Homo sapiens: one gene and its partners. The protein of the gene in region 1 interacts with the protein of each later gene in a pairwise test. Each region holds a gene or a part of one and is shown in the gene's direction. Other genes may lie near its edges.

Region 1 (4,728 bases):
CTGTATACCAGTTACCCAGGGTATGGTAACTAAACTTTATTTCCTTTATTCCAATATCGCATTGCGGGTGAACATGTTAGGGATTGTAGGAATGAGATGGGTAGAAATTTGAAGATTCTGGGGCACTGGGAGGGCACTGCAGAGAGCCCTGGGCACCCTCGATGACCGAAGGAGGGAGAACTGTCACATTGGAGCCTGCTGTCTAGCACCCTGCCACCACTCGTGTTCCCACTCCTGTTTCTCAAACCACCATACAAAGCACCTTCTCTCTCGTGTAAAATTCTAAACAGCCAGCTGGGTCTTGAGCCCATTTCTTCAGCCGTGTGGCTGTGGGTGAGCCTGTGGGTGAGACGACTCTGCTCACCATTCTGCGGTGGCAGAAAATCATGCATTATTGCACCTGCTGGCCAGGGGCTGAGTGTTTTCAGTGTTAGAGGAGCTCAGTCTCTCAAAGAAACCCTAGTGGAACGTCAAGGCACACAGATCCAGGGCTGTTCCCTGGACATCACCTGCTGCGGCACCTGCTGGGTGAGGGTGGCCAGGGGTAGCTGAGTTCCAGAGTGGGAAGAGCACTGGGCTTGCATTCACGCCTTGAGCCCTCCCTCGCCGGCTCATGACTTTGGACAAGCTACAACTCACTTTTCTCATCTGTAACAAACGATAGCAAACTTTTAGTTTCTGTTTGCTCCCTTAATCAGGCACTGTCGTAAGCACTTAGGTTAACTCACTGAATTGCCACTACAGCCTTCTGAGGAAGATACTTTTATTCTCGCCTTCTTTCTGTTGGGAAACTGAGGCAGGGGATGATTAAGTAACAGTCCAAGGTTGCACCTCTTACCTTGGAGATGGGATTCAGACCCAGAGAGCTGAGATAAGAGTCCATCCTCTTCGCTGTTACCCTGTGCTTCCTCACCCAGAACTAGAGGACTTGGAATCCCTACACCGCAGGGTTGGAAAGATTGGATAAAATAATGTCTGAGAAAGAACTCTCATTAATTTTTTTTTTTTGAGGTGGAGTCTTGCTCTGTCGCCCAGGCTGGAGTGCAGTGGCGTGATCTCAGCTCACTGCAGCCTCCGCCTCCTGGGCTCAAGCGATTCTCCTGCCTCAGCCTCCCGAGTAGCTGGAACTACAGATGGCTGCCACCATGCCTGGCTAATTTTTGTATTTTTAGTGGAGACAAGGTTTCACCATGTTGGCCAGGCTGGTTTTGAACTCCTGACCTCAAGTGATCCGCCTGCCTCAGCCTCCCAAAATGCTGGGATTACAGGTGCAAGCCACCATGCCTAGCCTCATTAATTCTTTTAATCTTCCCCACTCTCCAAAAAAGCCTTGCCGTCAAGCAGCCTGTGGCCTAGCCTAGGGGTCAAGAACAACAGCCCAGTGCCTTCATATGCCAGGGAGGCTCCAGGGGAGATGAGGAGGCAGAGGCAAGGCTGAGAAGATTGCGTGCAGGCGGGCTGCCCTGACTTGTGTCCTCCCGTTCCCACGCCCACCCCTGCACCTCTTCTTGGGGCAGCCTCCTCTGTGGTCTGCAGAGCAGGGAACCTTCGCATGTGACTCCTGCTCTGGTTTTCCTAGCGGAGAAGAAGATGATGAGCTCAGCCTCTGCAGCAGGAACCCAGCAGATCTACTCCCAAGGAAGCCCATTTCCCTCTGGACACTCCGGGAAGGCCTTCAGGTATGTGCCAGCGAGGGGGACAATGGCGTGGGAAGATGCTCCCTCACCAAGAAAGCCCTGGGTCTCAGAGCACAGCTCTGTGGGCTGTAAGCATGAGTTAGTGGTTACTGGCGCTCAGGCCTTGGACTAAACTGAGGATTCTGGTGGCTCTGCTTCTGCTCTGTGAGCCCTCTATGAGTTGCCATAGATTCCTGGTGTCAGTTACTCTTTCTTGGATGTGAACAGCACCAGCCACTGTGTTCTGTGGCAGTGATTGCCAGGGAGAAGGGAGTGAGTTCCCTCTAGCCAGGACCCAAGTGAGCTGGAGCTGGGAACAGCTGACAAGGTAGCAGGAAGTATCCTGTCATCTGGTGCCCAGAGGCTACAGCCAAATCCAAGGAAGACTGGTCAGCTCAGCCCACCACGTCTGAGCCTCATCCTAAAGGGCACTCAAGGCTTCAGGCAGGGTGTCCAACCTTCCCAAGGGTTGGTTCTTAGCATCAAGGGCATCTGGTAGGTCACTGAGGAAGCCCTGACATCATCACTGGAGGCAAGGCCTGGCTCCACTGACTTCTGGGGAGACAGAAGCATCAACTGGGAAGAACGGTCAGAGAAGAGGCTGGCAGCTCTTGGGGAGGGTATGTGGGCACTCACCTGTGCCCACCAGACACCCTAAAGTTCCTCATGCCCAGCAGGGCAGGGCTTCTCCAGTGAGGTTGGCCAGACCCTAAGCAGAGCTTCCAGATGCAGAGGCCAGGAGGGCAGGTGGGGCCGGCCACCCAGAGAGAGGCCCCTGCCACGGGACTGCCCTAGCCACAAGGAATGAGGATTTTGCTTCCACACTGGTTCAAGGACAGACCTCCTGGAGACAGATTAGCAGACATTGCAGGGGCTCTGGCCACGCCTGCAGCTGAGTCTTGCTGAATTGCACACTGCTCTGAGGCTCTGGGGAGCCCTGGCTGCAGGCAGGGCCTCTGGTCTGGGGACAGCAGACAAGATGGCAGCCCTCTGTGAGCAGTCCCTAACCATCATCACCGCAGGTCACGCTGCTCTGCTGAGCAATAGTCAAGCCCTCCAGACTTCTCTTGGCTGCTGAGTTACTCAGCTACTCAGCACGCACTGACCGATCTCCGTTGATGCCAAGCCCTGTGCCAGCCCTGCCTGGGTGCTCATGTTCATGGGGTCCTTGTGACACTTGCTGCTTGTCCTCCACTCTGGACAAAGGGGATCAGGGAGAGCACAGCAGCAGGAGGTAAGGAGGGGACAGTTCAAAGGCAAGGGGACAGCCCAAGGTGGCATGACCGGAGAAGGTCTGGCTGACTCTTCAGCTAGGCCTGAAAGCAAAAGTCAGGTTCTGCCTCCTGACCAGGGCAGGGGTGCAAGGGCCTGAGGGGTGTGCTGAGTGAAGCCTTGGAGGAGGTGTTGTTGGAGGAGGCCTCACTAATGGGAGAAACAGAGGATGACCACGTTGTTCTATGACAACGGCCTCACACAGGCTCTGCACCTCACACTGGACTGTCTGCCCTGAGCTGTGTCTGCAGCAGCAGCCGTGGGGACCATGCTGAGGAGGAGGACACCATCACTGATGACCTTTGGGAGAAGAGTGAAGCTGCAGACAGGGCTCAGGGCAGACAGTCCAGCGTGAGGTGCAGAGCCTGGGTAACGCTGTTGTCATAGAAACAAAAATGTAGGGTGCACAGGGCAGTGATGAGTGATGGGGAAGGAAAAGCAGGTTTGGGGCAGCTGGCAGTGTGGGGAAGGAATCCAAGGAACGTCCGAACACCTGTGCAGAGCCTGGCATAGAAAAGGCACTTGCTGAGTACTAGTCTGTAAAATGAATGAATAAATGACTGAGTTAATTAAAGGATGCCTGTTAGGGCTAAAGCCTGTGGAATGGGCAGAATTTCCTGTATATCCGAAGGATCTGAGCTGGCTTGGGATGGGGTAGGCTGTGGGATGAAGGACTCTGGGGCCCAATACAGCCATAGGGAATCCTGGGCCGCTTGCAGAATGGTGTTGCTGGCACCTGAAGTGCATCCTCACCCACAGTCCTCCCTCTCTGGTCCCGCCAGTTTTGGCCCCTGCCTGTCCACACTAAGGCAGGCAGCTGTAGCCCAGAGGCCCCCAGGGAGGGCTGTGCACAAGGGCTGGCGCTTTGCCCCAAGAAGCCCATCCCTTTCTGCCAAGGCGCCTTTCCTAGGACCGTCTACGCTGTAGCGGCCCTCATCAGTCAGTGTTTTGGGGAGGACACCAAGGGCTGGGGGCTGTGGAGAGGGTCCTACTAGACAATAGTGACCAGAAAATGTCCTCTGAAGCAATACTTTCATCAGGAAGGAGAATGGGAAAGGAGCCCTTATGTTAAATGAGGAATTGATTGTATGAAGACAGAAATGATGTCCCCTTTATATAAGCCACTGAACTTGTTTTACAATGATCAGCTCAAGAATGTCTCTGACATTCTTGGTTTCTCCCTATTTTAAAAGGGATCAGATAGCATAGGAAACTTATTAGAATACAATAGTAAAATTTTACCCAATCTCTGCTGATCTCTGGCTTGCCTTTTTTTTAACACGGAGCTGAAAATCTACCAAAGCCTTCTGTGATGAGCCCCATTCTGCCCTACTTGACTGATTCATGGGCACCCAGCGCACTGCCCTGCATGCTGAGCTAGTCCCAGGGAGGCAGGAGGAGGGGCCTGAAACAAAGTAAAAGTCTGCCCCCAGCCTTTTAGTCTTTGATGAGCTTCTCATGTAATCGACATAGCCTGGAAAATCTCCTGGAAGAAGCGCCTGGTGGTACAGACAGTGCCTGCCGAGGAGCTAAGCAGGGTCAGAGATTTAGCCTGCAAAGGCCATGCAGAGAGCACGGCACACAGCAGGGGCCTAATAAAGACAAACTGAGTTAAGTCGAAGGTGAACTGAAGGTGGGAGGGGTAAACTCTGGGTAGCAGGACTAGGCCCCATCCAGCAGGTTTTCATTGAGAAGCTTTTCTTTCCGTTTAAAACTGACAGCCTGCAACCTATTTCCTGAATCCTTAAGCCTCATAGGTGCCCCAAAGGAACAAATTAAC
Region 2 (4,800 bases), on another chromosome or scaffold:
AGCAAGCCCCCCCCCCTTTTTTTTTAATTTTATAACTTTATTTGAGGTATTTGATGATCAGCGATTAGTTCTCATCCACATTGACTGTCTGTAGATTTTTGAAAGTGGTAACAGGTACATAGGTAACCAAAGTATAGAGCTTATTTGGTGGATCTTCATCCTCATAACATTTTCTGGACAACCGCACACGGATGCAGTATGGGACATTCTTTATTCCTTTGTCTCAGACAGCTTTGTTGAGGCTGGTATCAATGCACACATCTGGAGTTCCCATCTCCTTCATGGCAAGTTTCCGAATCTCTTTGAGTGCCTGAGGAGCACGCTTCTTGAAGCCACTCCATGGATGCACTTGTGAATGTTGATGGTGTATTCTCAGGTCACCACCTCATTGATGGCCGAATGACCCTTTTTCTTCTCGCCACCCTTCTTTCTGGGAGCCATTCTGCTGGGTCCAAGATGGAAAGGGAAGCCCTTCTTAAGATAGCAACATTAGGCTGCTATATTAACTCTTTTCTGCATGAATGAGGTCATTTTTGCCTATTTTCTTTTCTTTTTTTTTTTTTTTTTTGAGATGGAGTCTTGCTCTGTCACCCAGGCTAAAGTGTGGTGGTGCAATCTCCACTCACTGCCAGCTCCGTCTCCCAGGTTCACACCATTCTCCTGCCTCAGCCTCCCGATAGCTGGGACTACAGGCGCCCGCCACCACGCCCGGCTAATTTTTTGTATTTTTAGTAGAGACAGGGTTTCACCATTAGCCAAGGTTGTCTCGATCTCCTGACCTCGTGATCCGCCCGCCTCAGCTCCCAAAGTGTTGGGATTACAGGCGTGAGCCACTGCGCCCGGCCATTTTTGCCTACTTTCATAGGGAAAAGGGATAGCAGCACCAAGCTGAGGCTTCCTTCGAATTCTCCCATGACTTTGTTTCCCCAACCTCTCTTAGCCCCTCTCCTGAGCTGTCTGGTAAGTAGCTGTTTTTCCACCTGGCTGGCTAAAGCAAATGTCCTTCCTTCCTGATAAATAAGACAACTGGTATCAAGAGGCTATAACACTTTTTCTTTTCTGATTTCAGAGCAGCCTGAACATGCATTCCGTGCCCAGCTACCTCACCCAGCCTCCACCTCCTCCTCCACCTCCTCCACCACTGCCCCCACCGCCACCACCTCAGCCTCCACCACCTCCACCCCAGAGCCTGGGCCCCCCTGGGCGTCCCAACCCTGGTGGGAACGGTGTGGTGGAGGTGTACAGTGCTGCTGCGCCCCTGGCTGGGAGTGGAACGGTGGAGATCCAGGCACTGGGGATGCAGCCCTACCCACCCCTAGAGGTGAGCAGAGGGGGCAGGGTGGAAGAGGACACTGGTCATGGACATCATGGCCAACCCGGACCCATCCTGAGCACCAGCTGTGTGCCAGACACTGTGCTGGGGATACCATGAAAACCAGACCCGGTCCTGGCCTTCATGGGGTGTACCACATCACAGGGGAGAAGGACTTTAATCAAAGCATCACACCCACAGATGTAAGATGCAAGCCATGAGAAGGTGGAATGGAGTACAGGTTGTAGCAGAAATATAAGCTGCCTGCAGGTAATGCTCAGAACAGTCAGAGAATGCCTACCTTTTCAGGCAAAAAAAAGAAAAAAGATTCAAAAAAATTATCTGCCTGAGTGTCTCTTACAGTTTTTAATAAGCTAGGTGTATCAGTTAGCTATTGCTGGGTAAGAAATATCCATCAGGCATCAGTGGCATATACCAAAAGTGTTTATTATTCACGTGTTTACAGTGGTCAGCTAGACAACTGCGGATCTTGGCTGGGCTCACTCATATGTCTGAACGTTGGCTGGCTGTCAGCTGCTCTAGGATGGCCTGGGCTGGGACAAGTGGGGTGACTCAGCTCTGTTCTGCGTGACTCTCATCCTCCACTAGGTTCTCATGGCCATGGTGGAGGTGCAAAAATGCAGACAGAAATGCCCAAGGCCTTTTGAGGTTTAGGCTTGTAAGTAACACAGAATCACTTCTATTGGCCAAAGCAGATCACAAGTCCAGCTTAGATAGCGCAGGTAGGGAAATAGATGCCACCTCTTGATGGGAGGAACTGCAGAGTCACACTGCAAAGGCTTGGGTACAGGGAGGGGCAAAGAATTGGTGCCATAATACAATCAATGTACCATACTAATTCCCTGCCAATGAGCTCTAAGTTATAGGCCATCTACTTGAAATGCACTGAGTTCATAGAACCTTCCAAGACACCAGTGCTAGAGGGTATGGTTATGACAGAAACAACCCACCTGCACTAGAAATCACACTAACTCAGACTCACCATAGAATCCAGCCACAGACATCCCCTGTCAGGTAGTCTCTTTATGTAAAGAGAGCCCAGACCAGTGGGAAGATCCCACCACGAGGCATTCACGTGATGTTCTGAGGGGCTGCGAGGGGATTTGCCCTACCCTGGGAGAATAGAACAAGCTTCTCTAGGGAATTTATTGCATTGAGAAAAAGTTAAGTTAGTGGGATGCTGAGATAATGCTGGTGGCTTGTGGTAGTCAGAGGGGACCAGCCCAGAGAGGACCAGCACAGAAGGAGCTGCTGCTGTTGATTTTCCATGTAGATGAGGGTATTTGAGGGCAGGGTCTGAGTCTTACTAGACTTTGCATCCTTAGCACCTAGCAGAGCACTCCTAGAGTAGATATCTTACATTGGACTGTCTGACCTCAGTCTGCGCTCCTCTAAAATGGGAACTCTCCTGAAAAGCTGTTGAGGATAATAAGAGCCTATGCCAGTGGCAGTCACATTAATTACTCAGTAATGCCTTGAGTGATGGCTGAATTTATTCACGTGACAAGTATTTATTTATTTATTTGAGACAGAGTCTCACTCTATCGCCCAGGTTGGAGTGCAGTGGTGTGATCTCGGCTCACTGCAACCTCCACCTCTCAGGTTCAAGCGATTCTCGTGCCTCAGCCTCCCAAGTAGCTGGTATTACAGGTATGAGCTACCACGCCCAACTAATTTTTTTTGTATTTTTAGTAGAAACGGGTTTCACCATGATGGCCAGGCTGGTCTCGAACTCCTGGCCTCAGGTGATCTGCCTGCCTTGGCCTCCCAAAGTGCTGGGATTACAGGCATGAGCCACCACACCCGTCCCAACAAGTATTTATTGAGTGCTGTATTGGTCAGGGTTTGGTCAGGAAAATAGAAACCAGGCAAGGTATTTCTGCAGAGGGATGTTTTTTCTTTTCTAAATTAGAGATAGGGGTCTCACTTTAGCCCAGGTTGGTCTCCATCTCCTGGCCTCAAGTGATCCTCTCACCTCAGCCTCCCAGAGTGCTGGGATTACAGGCATGAGCCACCATACCCGGCCAGATTTTATAATTTTTTTTGTACCTTTTTTTCAGCTTTGTCTGATTTTATTACTCCAACTGTAGCTTTCTATTTATTTATATTTGTCTGAAATATTTTTTCAACTTTGGGCTTTTTGCTGAGTTGAATTCTTTTTTTTTTTTTTTTTTTGAGACTGAGTCTTGCTCTGTCACCCAGGCTGGAGTGCAATGGCATGATCACGGCTCACCACAGTCTCGATCTCCCAGGCTCAGATGATTCTCCCACCTCAGCCTCCTGAGTAACTGGGACTACAGGCATGCACCACCATGCCCATCTAATTTTTTTAATGTTTTGTGGAGATGAGATCTCCCTATGTTGCCCAGGCTAGTCTCAAACTCTTGTGCTCAAGTGATCCTCCTTCCTCGGCCTGCCAAAGTGCTGGAATTACAGGCATGAGCCATCGTGCCTGGCCAGAGATTTTGGATAGGACACCTCAGGAAGACCAATGGATGATGAATAGGCCAGGCACAGGGGCTCACGCCTGTAATCCCTGCACTTTGGGAGCCCGAGGTGGGTGGATCACTTAAGCTCAGGAGTTTGAGTCCAGCTTGGGCAACATGGTGAAATCTTGTCTCTACAAATTACACAAAAATTATCTGGGCATGGTGGTGTGTGCCTGTTATCCCAGCTATTTGGTGGGGTGAGGCGGGAGGGTTGCTTGAGCCTGGGAGGTCAAGGCTGCAGTGAGCCGAGATCACATCATTGCATTCCAGCCTGGACAATAGAGCAAGAAAAATCTGAATGCCTCAGAATTCATTTGGTAATTTCTCGTGGCTTCAGTTCTCAGTGAAGAGAAGCCTGCTACTCTGGCATTGGGTAGTGTCAGTCAGGAAGTGGAGCAGCTGGGGGAGCACAGACCCCTCTGACTTCCTGGTTCTCTCTCTCTCTTTTTTTTTTTTTTTTGAGACAGAGTCTCACTCCATCGCCCAGGCTGGAGTGCAGTGGCGCGATCTCGGCCCACTGCAACCTCCGCCTCCCAGGCTCAAGTGATTCTCCTGCCTTAGCCTCCTGAGTAGCTGGGATTACAGGCACACACCACCATGCCTGACTTAATTTTTGTATTTTTAGTAGAGATGGGGTTTCACCATGTTGGCCAGGCTGGTCTCAAACTCCTGACCTTAGGTGATCTGCCCACCTTGGTCTCCCAAAGTGCTGGGATTACAGGTGTGAGCCACCAGGCTCAGCCACCTAGTTCTCTTAATGCTAGCAAAGTACCACTGATAAGAATAGACAGGGCAAATAATAACAGCTAATGTGTATTGCATGCTCACTCTATGCCAGTCACTGTTCTAAGCCCTTTATATGTTGCTTCATTTAATCTTCACAGTAACCGCATGAGAGGGGTACTATGATGAGTCCCATTTTACAGATGTGGAAACTGAGACAGAGAAATTAAAAAGATGCCTAAGGTCACTTCGGTG
Region 3 (4,800 bases), on another chromosome or scaffold:
AGATTTATATGTAGACAGGCACATTTGAAATTGCATCCTTCTAAAGATAATTTTATATCATTATAACTTCACAAGAAAAAATTTGTTTTCCTCTGTTGATCCTAGTAATAGCAAACACACACAGTAATATGACTGCCATGGAATGAAAAATTATTAAGTATTGAAAAACTGAACTGAAAGATAAAATCTTTTAATGTGTGGATTATGGAAAAGGAGGAGGCTTACTTTATGCAAGGCTGATATTATATACCGGTATATATTATATACCGGTATATATTGGTATATACTGATATTATACTGGTATATACTGATATTATATACTGGTATATATTATATACCACTAGGTACAGCAGGTTATGGAAAAGTTTCTCATAGTTGAAGGGGGAGCCTTTTAACAAACAGAAAATTTCTCCAGTGGACTTAATTGATACCTAAATTTCTACATTAAAATTTAATCACTTTCATTTATACCTATGTCATATATTACATGTACATACCTTGAATAGGAGGATGCATTTATTCTCATTAGTCATTTACCATGTAGGGCGAATAGGAGGCCCACAGATGCTGATAAGAAAAGGATTTCTTGGAGAAAGACAGAGAGCACTGCAGTGAGCACCTTCCATGACCTCTTTCAAGTGGGGAGAGGGGCCTGACAAAGAGAACACGGTGAGATGCTGAAGGCAAACACTGACCATTCCAAATTTAGAAATTTAGAGGATAGAACAAATTTGGAGGATAGACTCTAGCATCAAGATTTTTGTTTAGCATTAACCAAAAGTTCAAGGACAGACTAGAAGTCTTTGCTCAAGATTTTATATTTTTAGGATGTTCTTAGAAGTTAAATAAAAAGCTCCCCACTTCTTGAATAAGCAGAGTTGATGCTGCATGATTCTTTCTTGAGGGCAGCAAAATCTGCCTCCATGCCTGACCCACTGTAGGCATCCAATAAATGCCTCTGGGACAAAATATGTTTCATTTTATTCACCTTATTTTCACCAGAAGGTAATGAATTATATTTTGAAACAAATTTTAGGAAACTACAAGCTTCTTCTTTGGATAAACGGGCTTTCCACATCTTGGCAGACCACTGCTGAGTACAGTGTCAGCATGACTTCCAGCCGCGTCTCAGCCTCCCTCACCTACTGCGGGACTTGTCCGGGGCTCTGTTGCATACCCCGCCATTGTATACAGACTCAACCAAAAACCGGTATTCTAAAGCTCATCATTTTTGTCATTTAGAGCACTTATTTTCTCATTTCAGAAAGTGGATGTCACCAGCAGGGCTGTGATGGAAATAATGACTAAAACAATTGAATACCTTCAACCCAATCCAGGTAAGGCATCATCTTATATGTTTAAAGGATCCCTCGAGGTAACTTTTAGTTTCTCTTTGATAGACATTTTAAGTTTGGTGTGTTTCTTCTTTTGGTGTTGCTTCCTCGGTCCACTTTTCTGAGAGGTTAGCGACTTCATGGATAGCACATTTTAACTGGGGAGAAGGGCTTTTTAAAGCTCACATTGAAGTAACTGGAAGATCTGTGGTATTTTATCTGACTGTGGTATATTTAACAAATAATGTATGCAAACAGTTCAGGTGACACATAATATCAGAGTAGCTATAAACTGTTATCAGTTTGAACTTTCAAGAGATGGTAAGAAGGAAAATTAGGATAGTTTAAGGTAAGATATAATGATTCCCAGAAGATGTGAAAAAGTAGGGAGGTGAATCGTTTTCATGAAACACAGAGGGTTTCTTCATAGGGCATCACCAAAGTCTTCAGAGCGTTGATCTTGATTCTGATTCTTCTCCAAGCACATCACAGATCAGCATTGGTTCCTGCTAACTTGTTATACTCTAAGAAAAAGAAGTGGTAATAGAGATAACGGAGCTATATGTTGATAAGAGGACCAGGCAGAGTTGGGGCAGTTTCGGTAGGCACTAGGTATAGCAAAGCAAAGCAAAGCAAAGCAGCCTACCTGATAGACCTCCTCATTACCATTCCTGTGTGTCAGTTTCTAACCACAGGGCACGGAAACGGGAAGTGAGGCTGGTTGTATTTAAGTGAGATGTGTGAATATTTGGAATACCCCTTAATCTTGAGGCTAGTTTCTTTGCAAGTTTCAGGTTGGGGTTCCGTGTATTTTATGGTCCTAGAGAGGATGGTGCAGACAACTGCTTCAGCCCCAATGAGTTTGGATACTGAGCAATAGTGGACAAGTGATCAAAAAAAAAAAAAAAAGGGGGCGGGTGTGGGCTGAGAGGAAGCAGGTGTGTGCTGTACTAAGTGCTGGCTCCTTTTCTATGCCCCCTGCTGCTGGCTGCAGCTTCCTTCCATCCTTATTCACCTATGACCAGCCCAGCTGCTATTCTGAGGATGAGCAGACTATGTAGGAATAACTTTCTGGATATTTGTTGCTGTTGTTTTTGTTCATAAAACACATTAGAAATGAGCTTATGTGAGGGAGGAAAATATGGAAGAAAATGTGATAAGCTATAGGAACCAGGAATTTAACTGACAGTGGTCTAGATACATTTTCAAATGCTTAGCAAATTTGTCAAAGCACTGCAAAAATCAGGTTTCTTATTTTTACCCAGAACCTTCTTGGTAACCACTGTTTTTCACAGAGATGCAAAGATCTCTTGGATGCACATTTATTCCTTACTGTTTAAACCACTGTCATAGGTCAAGTTCTGAAAGAGAACTGCTCGCCCTGCTTCCCCGCAAGAAATCATTATATAGGGGCAAGAAGTTTTGGTCTTTATCTTTGCCTAGAACCTTGAAGTACTCCATGATTTCCTGGGATTTTCACGAGTTGTACTTGTAACTCATGGTTGTAGGGCTAAGAGAAAGGCAGTGGGAGGAGGAATATAGTATTTATTGAGCACTGATGCATTTTCAGTGCAGTGCTAGGTATATGAGGCATTGTCTCATCTTTAAAAGTAACCATTTTTCTCCATATAAAGTAAAAACAGTTGAAGAATTTCTAGTATGAAAATAGACTAAAAATTCATTGTAACACAAATTATCAGTGGGAGCTCATCAGTTTTCCTGAGTATAATGGAACTGTGCTCTGTTGTAGGTAGGTGTGGTGGGTTGCATTGTGTGTCTCCCCAAATTCAGGTCCATCCAGAACTAAACTTATAAGGAATGTGACCTTATGTGGAAATAATCCTTGCAGATGTAAGTAGTGATGTAGGATCTTGAGATGAACTCTTCCTAGATTTAGGGTGGCCCCTAGAACCAGTGATGGGTGTCCTTATGAGAAGAGGAGAGGACACAGAGAAACACAGGAAAGAAGGCCACGTGAAGAATGAGAAGAGGTTGAAGTTACACGTCACGAGCAAAGGAATGCCAGGAGCCACCACCACAAGCTGGAAGACATGAGGAAGGATTCTCTCAGAGCCTCCAGAGGGAACCAACTTTGCCGACACCTTGATTTCAGACTTCCGGTATGCTGAACTGTGAGGGAATCAATTCTTTTCTTTGAGGCTGCCCAGTTTGTGGTCATTTGAAATGACAGCTCTAGAAAACTAATCCAGTACGCTAGCCTCATTTTATTCAGGAAAAAACAAGGGTCAGAGAATTTAAGGAACTTTCCCATTCATACACCTAGGAAGGGATGAAGACAAGATTGGAACTCAGGTCTGACTACCTCCTAAGTCTCTGCACTTCACGTTGCACGATCCTGCCTCTGAGAAGGGTAGGCTCCATTTCATTTAGGTGTGAAGGGTCCTTCCCTTTCAGAGAGTACCAGAGAAATTCAGAAAGGAAATTGTGGGATTAAGGCTTATTTTTATTTTAATAAAAAACATCAAAGGAGGAGGTAATTGAGAAGATCTGAATGTTTAGAAATGACATTTTTAATACAATATTGCATGTGCTAATTGGCTGCCAATATAATGGTTTTGTGACTATTTGAGAGTTGAATGGACATCTGCCACTAAGAACAATGAAGGCCATTACAGGCAATTCGAGGTTGGTTTCAGAAAAACAGTTATGTATGGGCAGGCCACATACATATATGAGTAAGTACTACCCAGAAGAGTCCAGAACAAAACGAAAATTTTGTGTAATCATTCCACAGAATTTAAACAACCTGCATTTAATTGTTTACAACAGGTACAATTTCATCCCTCCACCAGCTTCTTGCCCTGAGAGTAGACACTGGCCATAGAGCCCAGACCAGGTAACTGGTAAAGTTGAGAGTTAGGCAGACACCCAGAGAGACAGTCCTTGGGCACAGGAGAGCACAAAGAATGTTCCCAAACTCGTGCAGTTTGCTAAATACTTTGCCCACTCAGCCTTTCAGTGAACCCTAGAGCTGGGCCAACCAGTGTGGATACTGAATGCTGGTTCTGAATAAGCAAGATATGGCCTGGGTTAGGACAGGGCCTGATGCCAAGTAACACATTTACATGGACAGGCCAGGGGAATCAGTAGGATTTGATGCTTCGAGGGTACTTTGGGAGTACATCTGTATTAGATTACTGCTCCCGGGTGCTTGCTGGCTTTCACATCTTGGGTACATGGACAGGCCAGGGGAATCAGTAGGATTTGATGCTTCGAGGGTACTTTGGGAGTACATCTGTATTAGATTACTGCTCCCGGGTGCTTGCTGGCTTTCACATCTTGGGTACATGGACAGGCCAGGGCAATCAGTAAGATTTGATGCTTCAAGGGTACTTTGGGAGTACATCTGTATTAGATTACTGCTCCCGGGTGCTTGCTGGCTTTCACGTCTTGGGTACATGGACAGGCCAGGGGAATCAGTAGGATTTGATGCTTCGAGGGTACT
Region 4 (4,800 bases), on another chromosome or scaffold:
TGTATTTAAATTTTTAATAAATACCACCAAATTGCCCATCTAACAGGTTAATCAGTTTATACTGTTTCCACAACCTCACCAGCATTTAGTTAGTTAGGCATTTTTAGCCAGTATAATTGGTTGAAATAGTCTCTTTTTGAGATTTGGATTTCTGAGTAACATAGAGGCTCTTATGTTTATGGTGACTTAATGTCTCTTTTTTCTGTGACTTGTCTGTTCATAGAAGTTACCCATCTTTCCTTTATGTTATTGCTTTCCTTATTTGTAAGAATTTTTATAGAATTAAAATTAGACTTTGGGGGTAGATGCTACTAATATATTTTCTTAGGGTTTTAAAAAGCTATTCTTAAATTTCCCTGTAGAATTTTATGTAGTCAAATTTATGAAATTTTTCTGTGTGGCCCTTGGATTGTGTTGTTTAAATCTACCTTCACGAGGCTGGGTGCAGTGGTTCACACCTGTAATCCCAGCACTTTGGAGGCCAAGGCAGGTGGATTACCTGAGGTCAGGAGTTTGAGACCAGCCTGGCCAACATGGTGAAACCCCATCTGTACTAAAAATACAAAAATCAGCTGGGTGTGGTGGCGGGTGCCTGTAATCCCAGATACTTGGGAGGCTGAGGCAGGGGAATTGCTTGAACCCAGGAGGCGGAAGTTGCAGTGAGCCAAGATTGCGCCACTGCATTCCAGCCTGGGTGACAAGAGCGAAACTCCGTCTCAAAAATCAGTCAATTAACCTACCTACGTATCTTCCTCAGCCCAAGATAGTAAAAAAAATTCACCCATGATTTATTTAGTCCATTCATAGTCGCATTTTTAAAGTCTTTGATCCACCTGTAATTCATCTGGAATAAGGGGTAAGATGGAATACAGACCCCTCCTCCCCAGAAGGGTGACTGTTTGTCCCATTACCATTTAGGGAATAGTGGGAATCAGAATTTTAAATTTAAAATTGCCGAAGATATGTTTTGCTCTACTATCTAACCAGCTCAGTTTTCTGAAATGTGCTTTTTACAGAACAGACAAAACAGTCATTGGATGCAGCGGTTTTCATGGAGACTGTCTTACGCTGACAAAGATTATTGAAGCAAGACTAAAGGTAGATGCTTTTGTACATTTCTACACTATTTTAAATTAATAGTAATTCATTAAATTCTTTTAAGCCTACAGCATGACTGTTGGTCAGATAGCTAGAGAGTCACTAGGTTAGTAGATGAATTACAAATGTATGCTAGAAATGAAATGATATCATTAATGCAGGGTCATTAAAGTAGCATAATGTGAAACAGCAGCACATTCCATTTGTTAAAGTCTTGTATCATATGAAGGGTTCTCTACCCTTTTAGAAGGAGCCTGGGAGGAGTTCTTCTTCTGAAGATACTCTTCCCTCAAAAACAAAGCAAATCAATTTCTGTGGCAGGAGAGAGCCCAGGAAAGATTTGACACAGGAGCTTGGTTTGCATCACCATCAGTTGACAAGCTTTTCCTCTTTACAGTGCTGTGCTCTTAGTTGGCAGGATGCATGAGTAGAAATACGAAAGAATGAATAAGCTGGGAGCTTGGATGGGAGGCACAACATGCACCATTAACGTCTGTCACCTGACCAGCTTCAGTTGATAGCCAGCTGCCAGAAGTCAGGGGTGATCACATTCTGTTTTGCCTATTCATGAATAACACTTGAGATTATTTACACTTATGAGTGGTTACTGGAGTATATAGTATATTTATTTAACTGACACATGCTTTTTGAATGTGTAGAAAGGATTTCACTCAGTATTTATCAATTGTTAATGCTTTTTTAGAAACTTACATTGAAAGCCATAGTGACTTACATTTATTGGCATATTTATATGATAATTCCTAATGCTTATTTTATAAATGGGAGTTAGAAGACAAAAGTAAACATGATATTGTTAATAAAACAAGGAATGGTGAATTCTACATAATACACACCCCTTCCTGAAGTTTTTCTCTCATACTTTATTAGGTGGTGAAGTAAATAAATGTTGGTGCTTGGTTTCGAAATGAAATGGAATGAAATTTTTTTTTTTTTTTTTGAGACAGAGTTTCACTCTTGTTGCCCAGGCTGGAGTGCAATGGCATGATCTTGGCTCACTGCAACCTCTGCCTCCTGGGTTCAAGTGATTATCCTGCCACAGCCTCCCGAGTAGCTGAGATTACAGGCACCTGTCACCACCCCTGTCTAATTTTTGTATTTTAGTAGAGACGGGGTTTCACCATGTTGGCCAGGCTGGTCTCGAACCCCTGACTTCAGGTGATCCACCCATCTCGGCCTCCCAAAGTGCTGGGATTACAGGCCAGCAGTGAGCCACTGTGCCCGGCCTATGAATAATTTTTTATAGTTTTTATCTTGGAAAGGCATTCCTCTATAAAAAACTTACCTGTTACTTGTAGTTCATTTCTAATCATTTTTCAGTGTTTTGACTGTCATTATTTAATTTTACGGTGCTAGTTAGATATCTATCTGTCTATTTATTTAGAGACAGCGTCTCACTTTGTTGCACAGGCTGGAGTACAGTGGCGCCATTGTAGCTCACTGTAGCCTTCATCTCCTGGGCTCAAACATTCTCCCGCCTCAGTTGGGATTACAGGTGTGAGCCACTATGCCTGGCCATTAAGTTTCTCATTAGAGATGTTTGCTATGTGGTTAACAAAAATTGGTGATCTTGAATTCATTTTATGTTTATAATTTTTGTGAAGTTTCTCTACCAGTGGGTAATGTAGGGCTCGCAAAGGTATAGTAAAGCTAGGATTTGCAGTCACTGTATTGTCATGCTAAGACCCTGTTTTGGATGCTTGTGTTCTCTACTGTAGATGTTTTAAGGATCACGACCACTGCTGTGTATTAAAATCATGCAGAGTAAGGGTGCTGCCCTGTGTCTTCTGTTCTCACAGAGATCTGCTCCACAAAGAGAGGGACTTACATCTAGGTTTGATCAGGGATTGCCGTAATTTTTCTGTAAAGGACCAGATAGTAAATATTTACAGCTTTATGGGCCTCATTTGATCTGCTTCTGTAGTGAAAAAGCAGCCACGGACAATATTCATAGCAATAGGGAGTAGGCTGGATTTGGCCCCTGAGCCAAACTACAGGGGTAGTTTGTTGACCCCTGGTCTATATGCAGAGTGAGGGAGAGAGATGGATTTAAACCCATCTTCCTTAGGCCACTTCATGTGCCCTTTCATACACATTAGCTCTTGGATTAGCAGTACCTGAGATAAGGGTGGTATGGAAAATAGAGTCTAAACCAGAGAGCTGAGGGCAAACTTGGCATTCCTTCCCTTAAAATTTTATGTTAGTAATACTGTGTTGGTTGATCATGAAGGAAATAGGCATGCTTTCCCCTTCCACTGTGGTATGCATTTATTTATTCACTTTATACTGTTGATTGTTCTAGTCTATAATGGCCTCTGCCTCTACATGCCTGTGACTTTTATCAATAATTGCAGATGTATAAGCATTCCAATAATAAGGCCATGACTACGGGGGCAATTGCTGCAATGCTGTCTACAATCCTGTATTCAAGGCGCTTCTTTCCATACTATGTTTACAACATCATCGGTGGACTTGATGAAGAAGGTAGAATTCCTTCTTTCTGGAAAATGGTGGGGGGGAGGAGTTATTATTCCCTAGATGTGTGTATCCATCTAGAGTTGAAAAGAACCATAAATACCATCTGACACAATTCTCATTTCATTTCTGATAATGAAAGTGATGAAGAAACTGAAGCTAATGTATGACCTCCAAAGGCACATTGAAGCTCTAATAGTGAATGTTGAGCAGCCAGTTATTTTGCTATTTTCTCAGGAACTTGCATGAGTTAGTAGTAAATAATTAGGCATTTTTATCTTATAGAAAGAAATCGGACCTAGAAAGCTTGACCTAAATGTGATTCTGAGTATTGAAAATTTTTTTATTAACAAATACACTTCAAAAAAGTTCTTTAACGGTTCTAGAAGTCATTTGGGGTAATTAATAATAAGCATCTACTCCAGTGTTTTCAGAACTTTTTGAAACACCTCTCTGATTTTGTCAGAGTCAGACCAGGATTCCCTGAGAATATTAAGTCTTGTTACTTAATATTCCATCCCATTTTTGTTCCAGAGCTGCATTACGCCACATGGGCACCAATGTTTTCCATCCAAATGTTCCAATCCATTTGTTCTCATTTGCAATCCAAATGTTCTCATTTGGATTGGCTTTTGGTTGCATCTAAAAATCAAATACAAGTACAGTGTCCCAGGACAGATCTTTGTCACTTAGAGTAGTCCATTGACACAGATGGATAAGTAGTCCATCTGTGTCATTTAGAGTAGTCCATTGAGATAAGAAGTTACAGAAGTGTCTAGATGAGGATATCATTGGAGTAAGCCCATCTTCTGTGTTCCTTCTGGCTGAACCTGTGGCTGAAGTTGCCCTAAAAGTAGGGGCAGAGGAATTCCTGTAAGGGACTGCCCCGAACCTAGTTGGGGTTCCAGAACACTAAATCTCAGGGTAATCAGTCAAAAGCATTTAGTGCTGCAGCAGTCCTCTCAGCAGACAGCAGGAAAAGATGTGTCCAAGGTGAGGGAGTTGATTTGAGTGTTGAAGGAATTTGGTTCAGGGCCAGGGATAGTTTCTGTGTGTTTAGCAACAGGGGTAATTTCTCAGTGTTTCAAGCAATAGCCTAAACAACATTGTCAGCGCCTGGGAATGTTCAAGGCAGGCCTTGGCTTGGGTCAGAGCCTCCAGGGGAATACATGCGGCTGGCCACATCACAGAACATCTCAGTTGGACACA

What was found. Proteins that work in one complex are often made in the same cells at the same time.
Region 2: the proteins of ARNT2 (region 1) and ZNF341 interact in a two-hybrid assay, tested with the Homo sapiens proteins (one large-scale study listed by BioGRID and IntAct).
Region 3: the proteins of ARNT2 (region 1) and SH3GL2 interact in a two-hybrid assay, tested with the Homo sapiens proteins (one large-scale study listed by BioGRID and IntAct).
Region 4: the proteins of ARNT2 (region 1) and PSMB1 interact in binary tests that used the Homo sapiens proteins (3 or more experiments, as listed by UniProt).

Annotation. Positions count from the first base shown.
Region 1 is NC_000015.10:80,575,287-80,580,014, forward strand, and holds part of ARNT2 (aryl hydrocarbon receptor nuclear translocator 2), read left to right. Parts: intron 1-1,579; coding exon 1,580-1,679; intron 1,680-4,728. UniProt on the Homo sapiens protein: Transcription factor that plays a role in the development of the hypothalamo-pituitary axis, postnatal brain growth, and visual and renal function. Specifically recognizes the xenobiotic response element (XRE).
Region 2 is NC_000020.11:33,752,103-33,756,902, forward strand, and holds part of ZNF341 (zinc finger protein 341), read left to right. Parts: intron 1-1,069; coding exon 1,070-1,321; intron 1,322-4,800. UniProt on the Homo sapiens protein: Transcriptional activator of STAT3 involved in the regulation of immune homeostasis. Also able to activate STAT1 transcription.
Region 3 is NC_000009.12:17,760,173-17,764,972, forward strand, and holds part of SH3GL2 (endophilin-A1), read left to right. Parts: intron 1-1,264; coding exon 1,265-1,337; intron 1,338-4,800. UniProt on the Homo sapiens protein: Implicated in synaptic vesicle endocytosis. May recruit other proteins to membranes with high curvature. Required for BDNF-dependent dendrite outgrowth.
Region 4 is NC_000006.12:170,542,401-170,547,200, reverse strand, and holds part of PSMB1 (proteasome subunit beta type-1), read left to right. Parts: intron 1-1,016; coding exon 1,017-1,098; intron 1,099-3,470; coding exon 3,471-3,600; intron 3,601-4,800. UniProt on the Homo sapiens protein: Non-catalytic component of the 20S core proteasome complex involved in the proteolytic degradation of most intracellular proteins. This complex plays numerous essential roles within the cell by associating with different regulatory particles.